Homo sapiens: one gene and its partner. The protein of the gene in region 2 interacts with the protein of the main gene of each other region in a pairwise test. Each region holds a gene or a part of one and is shown on either strand. Other genes may lie near its edges.

Region 1 (5,184 bases), on a different chromosome or scaffold from region 2:
AACATACACAGCCATAAGCTTCAAGTAATCTAAAACAACTACCTGAACACAAATAAATGTAATAATATTTGAATAAGTTATTGCTTACCTGAGTCTTTAAAAGGAAAAAAGCCAAACATCTTTAAAATACAATGAATAAAATAGTAAATTCATTAGAAAGTTTACTACTCACCAAATAATGTCAGTTTCAGTATCCTACTGCACTGAATTGCAAAGGAAAGGTCAGAACTATCAAAAATTGTTATAAGATCTCCATCTGGAATTTAAAAAAAAAAAAGGTTGTTTTTTAATTTTTTAAATTTTCAGATTTGTATAAGCAGTAAACTAGTAAAAATTAAAAATCCAAAATGTAGATTGTAGAACATAGTTGGACTCTCCCATAGAAACCTTAAACTTTAAAGGTCTAGCAAAAATGCATTTGTTCAAAAATATACTAAATCAATTTTGCTTATTACTCTTATGGCAAGGTATTTACACATATCCACATGAAAAAATACAGCTAAAGTGAATCCATTAAGTGCCTTAATATTTATTAGTCACTAGTAAGAGATTCATAGAGAGCAATATCATAAATTGTTGGTTTAGACTGAAATCTTTTCATTCCAAAAAATTTACATCTTTTACCAAGAAATAAAAAAGTTTCCCAAAGTTCAAATCTTAATCATAGGTAGAGTAAAACACTACTGTTGCAAAACTGCTTTAATGAATGGATAGACAGTAAATTCTTTCAGGTCACTGACCATTTTGATATTAAGATGAAAACAATCAACTCTCCCCAGAAAAATATTTATATATTCAAAACAGTGTGTATTTATGACCGTGAAATCCCCCAGATCTCAGGGATAAAGAATGCTATAATTGGCATACCAACTGTGTGTCTCAAAAGCTTTCAAAGGGCTAAGGGAAAAATACATTCTCTAAAGAAAGCAAGAACAGAAAAGCAGCCAGAGACAAGGAGTTCATCAGGGACCTCTGCAGGGTGTCTTCACAAACAGTTGGGTGGGGAGGAGTTCTGTCCTGGGGAGGCCACAAGACTACTTCTGGGATGCTCTGCTGCACCTACTTTAACACTAATTAGTTGGATTTATTTTGGGCAAAGATGACAAAACTGAGAATTTTATAACTGTTTTTAGCTCCTTATAGCCAGACCCACTTCCCATAACATACTTGTTTAATGTTCAATTTTCATAAACACATTTTTTAAAGAAAATAAAGTATGTATGTAAAAGAAGAAAACTTCCTGTTCTTTTTTTCTTTTCTGAATCCTACAACAGAAACAGAGTATCTCTGATGGCAGGAACTTTACCTAAGCCATCCCTCCACTCTACTAACAGAATCTAACGGACACAAATCAAAACAATCAAAAACTTTTTGGCCAAGTGCGGTGGCTCACACCTGTAATCCCAGCAGTTTGGGAGGCTGAGGTGGGCGGATCACCTGAGGTCAGGAGTTCGAGACCAGCCTGGCCAACATGGAGAAACTCCGTCTCTACTAAAAATACAAAAATCAGCCGAGTGTGGTGGTGTGTGCCTATAATTCCAGCTACTTGGGAGGCCGAGGCAGGAGAATCACTTGAACCTGGGATGTGGAGGCTGCAGTGAGCCAAGATCACCCCACTGTACTCCAGCCTAAACGACAAAGCAAGACTTTGTCTCAAAAAAAAAAAAAAAAAAAAAAAAAACCATGAAATACAAAGTTGTAACTAAATGTGGAAGACAAACTACAACGAGGACACCTCAAGCTAAGGGTCCATGAACTGTGACCAACGGACAAAATCCCTGTGTTGTTATAGGTCTGTGAATGAAAAATGGTTTTTACATTGTAAAAAAAAGATGAGACAGAGGCCTTATGTGACCCACAAAGCTACAATATTTATTCTCTCTGATCTATTAAAGAAAATGTTTGCTGACCTTTGCCCTAAACAGTAGTTAAGAGAAAGCCAGTCAATGAGGTCAGTTTGAGATAAAGGCAAAGCATCTTCAAGTGGGAAAAAAGGCAGTTAAAGGCCAGGCACACTGGCTCATGCCTGTAATCTCAGTACTTTGGCAGGCCAAGGCAGGAGGATCGCTTGAGCCCAGGAGTTCAGGACCAGCCTGGGCAACACAGTGAGACCCCCATTTTGATAAACATTAAGAATAAGAAGCTGAGTGCAGTGGCACATGCCTGCAGTCCCAGCTACACGGGAGGCTGAGTTGCAAGGACTGCTTGAGCCCAGGAGTTCAAGGCTTCAATGAGCCATGATCACACCACTGCGCTCCAGCTTGGGAGACAGAGCAAGACCCTGTCTCAAGACAAAAAAATAAAAAATAAAAAAAAGACAGTTAAGCAAGTACTAGCCAGAGCAATTATGCAAGAGAAAAAAATAAAAGGTATCCAAATTGGGAAGGAAGCAAACTGTCCCTGTTTGCAGATGACATAATCTTATATAAACAAAAACCTAAAAACTCTACCAAAACCCTTAGAACCAATAAATGAATTCAATAAAGCTGCCAGAAACAAAATAAGTACACAAAAATAAGTAGTGTTTCTATACACATACAATAAAAAATAAAAAATGCAATCCCATTAACCACAGCTACAAAAATTTTTTTAAATATCTAGGAAGCAGTTTAACCAAGAAGATGAAAAACCTCTACAAAAAAAAAAAAAAACACTGATGAAAGAAACCAAAGAGCATACATATGTAATGACATCCCATGCTTATATAAGAACAAATATTGTTAAAATGACAAAATTACTCAAAGCAATTTACAGATTCAATTCAATCCCTATCAAACTACCAATAAAATTATTCATAAAAATTTAAAAACAAACCATAAAATTTGTACAGAACTACATACAACCCCAGACAGTCAAAGCAATACTGAGCAAAGAACAAAGCTGAAGGTGTCACACTTACTGACCTCAAAATATACTACAAAGCTGTAATAAGCATGGACTGGCACAAAAACGGACCCACAGACCAACAGAACTGACATAAAAACAGACCCATTGACCAAGAGAACAAACACATAGATCAATAGAACACATAGAACAAAAGAACATAATCCATGTTATCTATAGCCAACTGACTTTTGACAAGACCACTCATTAGGAAAAGGATAACCTCTTTAATAGGTCGGGAAAAGATTTCATGAATAAGACCTCAAAAGTGCAGTCAATAAAAGCAAAAATAAATATGATTATCTCAAACTGGAAAACTTTTCTGCACAGCAAAGGAAACAATCAAGAGTGAAAAGAGAACTTACAGAATGGGAGGAAATACAACTACTCATCTGGCAGAGGATGAATATTCAGAATATAGAAGGAACTCAAACATCTCAACAGCTAAAAAACAATCAATCCGATTTTAAAATCGGCAAATGATCTGAACAGACATTTCTCAAAAAAAGACATAGAAATGGTCAATAAATATATGAAAAAATGCTCAAAATCACAAATCATCAGGGAAATGCACACATATCAGGAAAATGAAGACCACAACAAGGTTCACCCCAGTTAGGATGGTTATTATCAAAAAGATAAATAACAAATGCTGGCAAGAATGAAGAGAAAAGGGAACTCTTACACATTATTGGTAGGAATGTCAACAGTACAGCCACTAGGGAGAACAGTATGAAGGTTCCTCAAAAAACTATAAATCGAACTAACACACAATTCAGCGATGCCACTACTGAATATTTAACTAAAGGAAAGGAAACCAGTATATTGAAGAGAAATCTGCACTCACATTTTACTGCAGCACTATTCACAATAGTCAAGATATGGAATCAACCTAAGTGTCTAACAACAGATTAACTGATAAAGAAAATATGGTATATATACACAATGGAATACAATTCAGCCATAAAAAAGAATGAAGTCCTGTCATTCACAGCAACATGGATGGAACTGGAAGACATTAAGTTAAAAAGATACCACATGCTCTCTCTCATATGTGGAAGCTAAAAAAAGTTGATCTTATACAAGTAAAAAGCAGAACAGATGACAGTAGAGGCTGCAAAGGGTAGGGGAAAAGAGGGATAGGGAGAGATTTATTAAAAGACACAAAAGTACAACTAGATAGAAGTAGTTCCAGTGTTCTATAGCACTATAGGATGACTACAGTTAACAATAACATATTATATAATTTCAAATAGCTAGAAGGAGAATATTGAATGTTTCTAACCCAAAGAAATAAATATTTGAGGTGATGGATATGCGAATTACCCTGATCTAATCCCATTATATGTAATGAAACATTACTATGTACCCCATAAATATGTACAATTATTATTTGTCAATTAAAACAAAATTTAAAAAAAAAAGTACTCTTGGGACTTTGCTAAAAAAAAAAAAAAGTTAAAAATCTGAATTGTAGGCTGGGCATGGTGGCTTATGCCTTTGGGAGGCCGGGTTGGCAGTATTGCCTGGGGACAGGAGTTAAAGGTTATGATGAGCTATAATCATGCCACTGCACTGTAGCCTGGATGAGAGTGAGACCCTGTCTCAAAAAAAAAAAAAATTCACTGATCAAATTAAGACACACATTTCAAAGTCACAGAGGTGCAAATCAATGTATGATAAGCATAAGAAAACAGGAAAAAAGTACTATCCTTTATTGTTTCTTAACATGGGCAACTCTCAAAAATTTGTTTTGGGTATTCTTAGACTACACATCACAAAAACAAAGGAGAATTATACCTTTAGCTAGATGGTCAATTTAACTGATCACCAGTGATTTACACTTCTCCTCCACAGTATAAGTTGTGCTAAGTGGCTGCTCAGCCAGGGACTATACTTCCCAACCCATTTGCATCTTAGCAAAGCCATGTAACTGGGTACTGACCAATGTCATAAGGGCAGAAATGACATACAACACCATCAGGCCTAGTGAGTAAAATCTCCCATATGATTCTTCATACTCTGTCTTCACTCATCTGCTTGCCAATGTCAATGCCTATGGTGAGCTTATAAGCCATGTGTTGAAGGTAACAGCTTCTTTCAACCTGGATCCCTGAAAGATTTCTCAACTATTAAACCACTCAGATTTTAAGATTTCTATTATATCTGCTGGCATTACTTTAAGCCCAACCCTAACACAGACAGAGAAAAAACTGTTAGTGATAAGAAAACTAGGTTAAGCAGTGTCAGAGATGTTAAGAGGTAAAAGTATTTAAAAACAAGGATGGTGTGGGTAGCAGT
Region 2 (4,090 bases):
TTATCTGCAATATGGAACTGCACTGGAGTTATTGATAGAACCTACCAAGATAACAGGTGTGAAAGTGCTTTGTCCCAGTAAGGGGTAAAATAGACGTGGATCCTAACTAGGTTATTTATTTCAGTTACCTGTCACATGGGGAGACTGTGTCAAACCTATTACGCAAAAGTTGCCCACGTGGTTAACTTTTAATGAACACATACATTGGGCTTCACATGTGTCATCTCATTGGATCATAATGACAACTACATACTAAGTAGTATCCATTCATTTATGGACTCTGCAAAGCCTTATTGGCACCTGCTTTTTCTGAGAACCATGTGTTTATCCTACACATACCTGTGTGTTCACTGCTGTACACAAATGTAACTCCCTTTACATAAGACCCTTGCTGTTGGCCTGCACGTGGGTGTAGATAGACAAGGCTCGGCTTTAGTGACTGAGTGTTGAGACTGTGGGGTTCACAGTGGCCCCCTCTGGAGACTTCTCCACACCATCTCCAGGTCCCTGCATCACCCATGACTTTTCTCTTTCAGACTTGGCCCCCTCCCCATTCAAGGTCTTCTGGACAGCCTCACAGGGATCTTGAATAAAGTCCTGCCTGAGTTGGTTCAGGGCAACGTAAGTAGGCAAGGTGGGGATCCCCTGATCCTCAGGTTTTAGAGCTTCTTGCACTAAAACAAAGCCCTGAGCTAAGTGGGTCCGAGTCCCTCAATTTGATAAGTAACTTCCATTCATCAATCTATTTGTCCATTGATCCATCTGTCCATGTTTCTTCTTTACATCTTTCCAAATGCATTGATGAGTCTCTGCTCTAGGCCAGGCCCTGCTTGTCCACACTGAAGCTGAAATGGATTGGCCCCTGTTCTGAGAAATTGGAGAAGTTCCCTGTCCAGCCTTCTATGGCCACAGACAGTCTTTCAACCTATGCTTGGGTGTCTCCTATAACCAGGGCACTCCACTCCACTTAGAATCAGATGTGATGTCACAGGGTGAACACTGGGCTTGTTGTGTGATTTGGGGCCCTTCACAACATCCCTCATGCCTCCAGTTTCTCCTCAGGCATGTGTGACCATTGATCTGTGGGATTGCTTAGAATCACTTTCACACAGAAAAATGACAGGAAATTTCCCCAGAGAACCCCCACTAGGGATTCTGCTGCTCCAGGGTGCCACTCTGCCTAACTCTCCTCTCTGCCCCTGGCCAGGTGTGCCCTCTGGTCAATGAGGTTCTCAGAGGCTTGGACATCACCCTGGTGCATGACATTGTTAGTAAGTACCTGCTTTCAAGCCCTCTGTCCCTCTCTGCAGGAGCAGCAACTTCCCCCAAGGAGTTTTTTCCCTGCACACCCTAGGATACTAGGTCCCTCTGGCCTCAACTCTCTCTATTTTGGGCTTCATTTTCCCCCGAATAATCCAGATAATTTTGAGATAGACACCGTGTCTCCTGCCTCAGCCCTGACACTGAGGACAGCTGGGCTGGTTGGTAGAAGGAGGCCTGGCTTCCTCCAAGCATGCTGAACACAGTCGGATCTCCAGAGGCCTCCATTCCCTGGCCCCCCACCTTGAGGAATATGGACTCCTTCACGTTGAGATCATAACTGTCGTCTGTTTTTTTATTGCTTGTTTGTTTGTTTAGACATGCTGATCCACGGACTACAGTTTGTCATCAAGGTCTAAGCCTTCCAGGAAGGGGCTGGCCTCTGCTGAGCTGGTAAGTGCCCTTCCCCACACCCCAGGGTTTTGGGGGCTGGCTGTTCTTCTCCTGGTAGAAGGCAGACGGGAGCTTGGGACAATGACATCCAAAGAAAGAGACAAACATCTACAGAGGTACACACAGGGATGCACAGAGAAATCCACAGAAAAGCTGACAGAGGTGGAAGGATGCAGGCAGCACAGCAACACAGCTACCAAGAGAAACACACACACAAATGCCCAGACACATGGCCACTGATACAGATGCACACACTCTCACACCAGCACACTCACACACATGCACACATTGGTGGACTCACCACACACAGACACACACACTCTCACCCAGCACCCTCACACATATGCACACATCAGTGGACTCACCACACATAAGTACACGTGGATACACAGACACACTCACTCAAACACATGCTCACAGAGCCCTGACTCCAGGCCTGATGGCTTGCCCAGGGTCTCAGCCTCCTCCTGTCCCTCTGGGGCATGAGTTTGATGATGAGTCAATATCAGTAACGCTCACTGACCTTGAGTCTCCATCCTGATTAGGGTCTTCCCCCAACAGAACTATTTCTTGCTGCTCAATCCATTTCCTCTGGCCCAGCTTCCCAGTGCTCACAGATGGCTGGCCCATGTGCTGGAAGATGACACAGTTGCCTTCTCTCCGAGGAACCTGCCCCCTCTCCTTTCCCACCAGGCGTGTGTAACATCCCATGTGCCTCACCTAATAAAATGGCTCTTCTTCTGCATCAGGGGCCTTGTCATCCTTCACCATTACTTGAGGGCTCCTGGGTTGGAAACAGCCCTGGCCTGGGTGGTTGGGCCCATAGCATAGAGTTTGGCACTTACTTTGTAGATCTGAATAGTCTTGAGCAGGTCAGGGAGATGTTCAAGTGTGTGTGGATTTCAGAAGGCTTTCCCAGGTGTCCTTAGAAAGGGGGAATAAGGCATTCAGGGTAGATATAATACTCCAGGTACAGTTAATGACATACAAGTTTGCCGCACCACGAATGAAAATGGCAGATTTGTGTTAGGGAAATGCAAATTAGAACTACAATGAAGGCCAGGTGCCGTGACTCCCGTCTGTAATCCCAGCACTTTGGAAGGCCAAGACAGGCAGATCAGTTAAGGGCAGAAGTTCAAGACCAGCCTGACTGACATGGCAAAACCCTATCTCTACCAAAAATACAAAAATTAGCCAGGGGTGGTGGTGTGTGCCTGTGGTCCCAGCTACTCGAGAGGCTGAGGTGAGAGAATTGTTTAAGCCCAGGATGTGGAGGTTGCAGTGAGGCAAGATCATGCCACTGCATTCCAGTCTGGGTGACAAAGTGAGACCCTATCAAAAAAAAAATTAAATTTAATTTTTAGAAACACCCAGTAAAATGTCATCTCACACCAGTCAGAACAGCTATTATTAAAAGGTCAAAAAATAGCAGGTGCCAACGAGGTTGCAGAGAAAAGGAATGCTTATACTGCTGGTGGGAATGTAAATTAGCTCAGCCACTGTGGAAAGCAGTCAGGAGATTTTTTAAAGAACTTAAAACAGAACTACCATTCGACCTGGCAATCCCATTACTGGGTGTATACCCAAAGGAATATAAATCCTTCTACCAAAAAGACACACACACATTCATTGCAGCACCATTCACAATAGCAAAGACATAGAATCAACCTAGATGCCCATCAGTGATGGACTGGATAAAGAAAATATGGTACATATACACCATGGAATACTACACAGTTGTTAAAAAATGAGATCATGGCCTTTGCAGCAACATGGATGCAGCTGGAGGCAATTATCCTAAGTGAATCAATGAAGGAACAGAAAATCAAGTCTCTCGTGTTCTCACTTACAAGTGAGAGCTAAACATTGAGTACACATGGACACAAAGAAGGAAGTAATACACACCAGACCTATCTGAGGGTAGAAGGTGGGAGGAGAGTGGGGACTGAAAAACTACCTATGGGTACTATGCTGATTATCTGGATGACACAATTATCTGTACAACAAACAGTTTACCCAGGTAACATGTACCCCTTGAACCTAAAATAAAAGTTGGAAAGAAAAGAAGAAAATGGCAGATTTAAGAGATGTTCAGGAGGTAGATCTGGAAGGATGTGGACAAGGGCGTAGGTGAGGTGCGTGTCCAGTGTCAGGCTGAGGAGCCAAGGGTACCTGGGGATCTGGGAGGATGAACTGATTCCGACAGACAAAGTATGCCCTTAGCTGTGGCTACTCTGTGTGGAAATGCCTGGGACACCCGGAGGATCCATCCAGGAAGCTGATGGTACACAAGTCACCTACCGCCCATCTTTTGCTTCCTTGCATGCAGTCATACTGACCTCTTGTCAATTCTCTAAGTAAGAGGAGGACAAAAAAT

What was found. The genes of interacting proteins can lie anywhere in the genome.
Region 1: the proteins of BPIFA1 (region 2) and TFG interact in binary tests that used the Homo sapiens proteins (3 or more experiments, as listed by UniProt).

What each region holds. Positions count from the first base shown.
Region 1 is NC_000003.12:100,715,047-100,720,230, reverse strand, and holds part of TFG (protein TFG), read right to left. Parts: intron 257-5,184; coding exon 173-256; intron 1-172. UniProt on the Homo sapiens protein: Plays a role in the normal dynamic function of the endoplasmic reticulum (ER) and its associated microtubules. Required for secretory cargo traffic from the endoplasmic reticulum to the Golgi apparatus.
Region 2 is NC_000020.11:33,240,849-33,244,938, forward strand, and holds the end of BPIFA1 (BPI fold-containing family A member 1 precursor), read left to right. Parts: intron 1-536; coding exon 537-621; intron 622-1,207; coding exon 1,208-1,271; intron 1,272-1,638; coding exon 1,639-1,679; 3' UTR 1,680-1,713; exon of another isoform or gene 1,714-1,821; intron 1,822-2,236; exon of another isoform or gene 2,237-2,258; 3' UTR 2,259-2,458; downstream 2,459-4,090.